Homo sapiens: one gene and its partner. The protein of the gene in region 1 purifies or fractionates together with the protein of each later gene. This does not show direct contact. Each region holds a gene or a part of one and is shown on either strand. Other genes may lie near its edges. The genes, in order: DDX52 and NOL10.

What was found.
Region 2: the proteins of DDX52 (region 1) and NOL10 fractionate together in Homo sapiens (co-fractionation; one large-scale study listed by BioGRID). This does not show direct contact.

What each region holds. Positions count from the first base shown.
Region 1 is NC_000017.11:37,608,940-37,612,671, reverse strand, and holds the end of DDX52 (probable ATP-dependent RNA helicase DDX52), read left to right. Parts: 3' UTR 1-2,933; downstream 2,934-3,732. Other genes in the region: SYNRG (synergin gamma), read left to right, coding at 3,317-3,393.
Region 2 is NC_000002.12:10,570,254-10,572,614, forward strand, and holds the end of NOL10 (nucleolar protein 10), read right to left. Parts: intron 1,938-2,361; coding exon 1,818-1,937; 3' UTR 501-1,817; downstream 1-500.

The DNA of each region.
Region 1 (3,732 bases):
TGTTAGAGATAAAGGAGCAAATAGAGTCACGCATCACTTAATGACAGAGATATGTTCTGAGAAATGCATCGTTAGGTGATATTGTCATTGTGTAAACATCATGTTGTTTACTTCCACAAACCTAGATGGTATAGCCTACCAGTACACCTAGGCTATATGGTATAGTCTGTTGCTCCTAGGCTACAAACCCGTATAGCATGTTACTGTCCTGCATGCTATAGACAGTTGGAACATGTAGACTTGTATAAACACTGCACACTTAACCTATACTAAATTTATTGAAAATATTTTTCTTGGCCAGGCGTAGTGGCTCATGCCTGTAATCCTAACACTTCGGGAGGCCTAGGCGGGCAGGTTGTCTGAGCTCAGGAGTTTAGAGACCAGCCCGGGCAACATGGCAAAACCCCATCTCTACTAAAAAAAATACCAAAAAAAGTTAGCCGGGTGTGGTGGCATAGTCCCGGCTACTCAGGAGTCTGAGGCAGGAGAATAGCTTGAACCTGTGAGGCGGAGGTTGCAGTAAGCCGAGATCGCGCTACTGCACTCCAGCCTGGGCGACAGGGCAAGACTGTCTTGAAAATAAACACACACACACACATTATATATATTATGTATTATATATATTAGATATATATTTTTTCTTCAATAAATTAACCTTAGCTTACTGTAACTTTTACTTTATGAGTTTTTTTGTTTTGTTTTTTTTTTTTTTTTTGAGAAACAGGGTCTGTTACCTAATTTGGAGTTTAGTGGCACAATCATGGCCCACTGCAGCCTTGACCTCTTAGACTCAAGTGATCCTCAAACCTCAGCCTCCCGAGTAGCTGGTACTATAGGTGCGGGCCACCAACACTCAGCTAATTTTTAAATTTTGTAGAGACGAGGTCTTGCTTGTTGTCCAGTTGGGTTTTTTAGATTTTTTTTTTTTTTTTTTTTTGGAGATGGAGTCTTGCTCTGTTGCCCAGGCTGGAGTGCAGTGGCATGATCTCGGCTCACTGCAACCTCTGACTCCTGGGTTCAAGTGATTCTCCTGCCTCAGCCTCCCGAGTTGCTGGGACTACAGGCATGCGCCACCACACCCAGCTAATTTTTGTATTTTTAGTGACAGGGTTTCACCATGTTGGCCAGGCTGGTCTCAAACTCCTGACCTGGAGTGAGCCACTATATCCGGCCTTTATAAACTTTTTTGATTCTTGTCATAACACTTAGCCTAAAATGCAAATGTACAGCTGTAGAAAAATACTTTATTTCTTTATATCCTTATTCTAGAAGCTTTTTTTCTATTAATTTTTGTTTGTTTGTTTTGTTTTACTATTTACTTCTAAAACTTTTTTGTTAAAAACCATGGCACAAACACACACATTATGCTAGGCATACAAAAGGTCAGGATCATCAGTCTCACTGTCTTCCACCCCCACTTCTCATCCCACCATTGTATCTGCTGTCTGTGGCTGACCAAAACATCATCATGTAGCACATGACTAGTGTGGCAAGTGCTCTGTTAGATGTAAGGCCATGATGCTAAAGCATCACAAGAGGGCATCTAACCCAGATTGGGGATGTCATGGAAGGCCGACATCCTGAGTTGAATCCTGCAAATGTAAAAACCAATAGGCAAAGAAGAGGAACAAAAAGGATTCCAGGACAAACTGAGGTCACATCTATGATCCTTGACTTTATTGTGTCTGTTTAAAGTATCTACAGTAACCTGTATCAACTTAGTCAGTGTATTAATACTAAATTTAGCTCCTTCAAAGCAGTTGGAACTATGTGCTACATAAATTTCAGCTTCACACAAGGAAGGGAAGGAGTGAAATTAGTGAACAGGCAGTTACAGCAAAAGAAAAAACATAAAAATTGAATAGCTGGCTCTGGTGAAATGAGCAAGGACTTTAGAGTCAAACTGGCCTGGATTTGAATCCTGATCCTCATTGCTTGTAGCTGTATGATCTGGACAAATGACAGTAACTGTTTCTAACCTTGATTTTCTCATCTGTAAGATGCCAATTGTAACTCCTAAGGATACTGAGGATTTTTTAAAATGCGTGTACAGTTCCTGACCAGTGGTTTGTGCCTAATAACTTATTACAAATTATTACCCAGTAAAAACCTTGAGACAAGAGTGAAAACGTAAAGCTAATTAATCCATTACTTGTTAGCAAGCAAACTACGTGCTTGAGAAAATTACTCAACTTTCATGTTTTACTTCCAGACAGTAGTTTGATTAAAAGAAAAAAAAAAATCACAGCCCAGGCATGTGGCTCACACCCTGGCACTTGGAGGCCGAGGTGGGAGCATAGCTTGAGCCTAGCAGTTTGAAACTAGCCTGGGCAACATAGATCCTATCTCTACAAAAAAAAAAAAAAAAAAAAAAAAAAAAATTGGCCCGGTGTGGTGGTGCATGCCTGTGGTCCCAGCTACTCAGGAGGCTGAGGCGAGAGGATCGCTTGAGCCAGGGAGGCTGAGGCTGCTGTGAGCCATGATCATGCCACTGCACTCCAGCCTGGACAACAGAGCAAGACCCTGTCTCAAAAAAAAAAAAAATCAGTAAAAAATATGCCGAAATAGCTTCAGAGTAATTATGAATTGCCTTCCAAAAACCACTGTTTTGCACTTGCCTGCAAGAATAGGAAAAACAAAAGGACTGTAAGGTGGCAGGATGGCAGAACCAAACAAGAGTAGTACACCTTGGAGTTTTTTCGAAATATGGGTTGGGTTTTTGGGCTCTTGGTTGATTTAAAATAAAATTTAAATGCCTTCAGCGTCTGTGATAGGTGCCAACATGAAGCTACCGAGTTCCAGAGAAAGAGGGGAGAGCTGATCACTCATCAGTGCTGCGAGACTATCAAAGGGCCCTTCAGGACCTATCTGTTCTTTGTGTGTAAAGAGTAACAATAAAAGAACACCAGTGTACCCACCGTATAGTTTAAAAATCAGGACTCAGCCTACTCTTTCCACTAACCGCGATCATGGTTTTCAAACGGAGGACCAACGGCGCTTTGCCACTGGGCCGCCAGCTGGGCCCTGCAGAGGGCCTACCAGACAATGAATCAGCTCCCTTGGAGAGGCGCCCGCGACCGCCCCACCAGCCCGAGAGCTAGAATTGAATCTGGGGGACCCCTGCGGCGCCGGGTCACGTGCCGTGGGCGCGCCACGCCTCCCCGAGGGCCGGGGGAGTCACGTGGGCGCGAGGCCCCGCCCCATCGCCCGGTCCGCGGCGAGGTGGGGCCTGGTGTTTGACCCGGAAGTGGCTGTGTTCAGCTGACAGCTGCTGATAAGGTGGCGGCGGCGAAGGCAGCGGCAGGTCGGGAGCAAGATGGCGCTGCGGCCAGGAGCTGGTTCTGGTGGCGGCGGGGCCGCGGGAGCTGGCGCGGGGTCCGCCGGGGGAGGCGGGTAGGTGTGAAGAGCCGGGCGGGAGCCCGCTGGCCTCCGCGGGGGCGGCGAGGGGCGCTTGGCAGTTATGGCAGTTTTCTCCAGCCCTGATCCTTTTCCTTGGAACTGGGCTGCGGGAGGAGGGTCATCCCCCAGGGACCCAGGCCGAAAGGGGCGTGTGGAGCCCAGGTGCTGGACGCTGGTGTTCCGGGATCAGTTGGGGGCGCCGGCCGCCTGGAATCGAGCGGGGAGCGAGCGCGCGCCCAGTGTGGGAGGGGAGAGAAGATGAGGGTCCTCTTGGGGTGGGGGGGGGCGGGGCAAATCAGGAACCGCGACTCCGCTCCTAGTCCTAGCTGCCTC
Region 2 (2,361 bases), on another chromosome or scaffold:
GGAGGCCTGAAGAGAGAAGGAACAATGGTGAGACAGGAGGAGGAAGGGAGGGAGTAGGGGAAGGAGAGAGAGAGAAAGAGGGAAACAGAGATAGAGTGCGCATGTGCTAGCTGACTGACCGTGGAGCCATGGATCTAGGTGTTCCTGAGGCCAGTTCCATGTCCCAAGCATGGTGATGTAAATTAATGCATTCTGCCTCTCGGCTTATGCTATTCGAAATTAGGCTGTATCATTCACAGTCCAAAGAGTTACTATTTCAGTTGTATATAAAGAACCTTAAAAATCTATAAAGGCACCTCCAAAATCACATCAAAGCTGGAAAAACTAAGGAAACCAAAGTTGGTTCTCTTCTTTCTTTTTTTGAGACGCAGGTCTTGCTCTGTCGTCCAGGCTGGCCTCGACTTCTCAGGCTCAAGCAACCCACCTCAGCCTCAGTAGCTGGGACTACAAGTGCACACCACCGTTTGACTAATGAAAAAAAAATTTTCTTGGAGTCTTTCTCAAAGAAGCTATTCAAATGAAAGTATATTTATTTTTATAAATGTTTCCTCCAGTAAGTTTATGTTTGACTGTACTTAAGAAACAGGAAAAAAAAAAAACCTGTAATTAAACTTGTGCCAAGATTAACCAACAGCCTCTACTGCTTGTTTCCCATTATTACAGGTTGGGTATCCCTTATCTGAAATGCTTGGGACCAGAAGTCTTTTAGACTTTGGTTTTTTTGTGTGTTTTGGAATATCTGTATTATATTTACTAGTCAAGTATCCCAAATCTGAAAATCCAAAACCTGAAAAGCTCTAATGAGCATTTTCCTCCAATGTCATGTCAGTGCTTGATATGGTTTTGCTCTGTGTCCCCACACAAATCTCATGTCAAATTGTAATCTTCGGTGTTGGAGGAGGGGCCTGGAGGGAGGTGACTGAAACATGGGGGCAGACTTCCCCCTTGCTATTCTGTGTTAGTGAGTTCTTGGAGATCTGGTGTTTGAAAGTGTGCAGCATCTGCCCCTTTGCCCTCCTCCTCTGGCTCTAGCCACGCAGGACATACCTGCTTCCGCTTCACCTTCTGCCACGATTGTAAGCTTCCCAGGGCCTCCACAGCCATGCTTCCTGTACCACCTGTAGAACTGTGAGTCAATTAAACCTCTTTTCTTTACTTATAAATTACCCAGTTTCAGGTAGTTCTTTATAGCAGTGCAAGAACAGATAAATACAGTGCTCAAACAGTTTTAGATTTTCGGATTTGGGATGCTCTCAACCTGCACCATTAGATTATACTCTCTTGGTATAAATTATTTAAAAACAAATCCCAAACTAATACATAAACAAGCCGAACAAACCTATCAGCATAAACTTATAAACACAAACACAGGCAATACACAGACACCAGGTAAAACAGGGATGGTATTTCTGGATGGTTTAATCATGAATGGCGGTAGGCAGTGTAAGAAAAAAGTTCCTAGAGCATGATAAACCTTGGTTTCTGGCACAGGATAAACCTTTCATTTCATGGTGTACATTTCACAATATTAAAAAAACCCCAGCCTGGTTTTCATGATTAACGCCGTGGGGAAAGGACAATGTTTCCAGGGAGCAACGACTCGCAAGCACACCCCTGGGGCTGTGCGGTGGCCGTCGGCGGGGCCAGCTTCAAAGTCCAACCCACAAGGCACAGGTTTTCAAATCTTTACCTCTGTGTACAAGAACGTACATGAACTTTAAAAACGTGTGTTTCCTCGTCTGTGTTTAACACCCTAACGATGATCAGTTTGGGGGAGACGTACCCCTCCCTAATCACAGGTAGGACCACTTCCCAAATCAATGAAACGACCGTCCTCTTTTGTGTCTTGACTTCAGGTGTCCGGCCGAACGACGGAGTCTTTTCCTTTCTTGTCGATGCAGTTTCTCAGCCTCCTGTTGCTTCTTCTGCTGTTCAGACTAAAAGAGAAAATGAAATGAGTAGAGGGAAAGAGAGAAAATTCTATACCTCTTTTCTGGTAACCGTCAGGCTGCCAACAGTACCACCACCAATCTCAGAACTGCTGCCAGGAGAAATGCTGCCCACAGGCTCCAGGGGACATGGTGGGGCTGCCTGGACTCTGCTCTGACAAATGCTACCCTGGCAGAAACAGCAGGACCAAGGCCAACTTTTACCATCAATGCAAAAGCAGAAATTCTGAACCCCAGGCAAGAGAAGGGCCCTGACAGACCAGCCTCCTACAAAGTAGGAGACTGGTTTTTCAACCAACACACTCACACAACCACTGGGATGTTTTAAAAGAGCCTACACAAGAGCCACCTTAAGAAGATGATATCACTTAGAGTGTCCACTTCCTTTTAGAGATCTTTGTTTACAAACTAG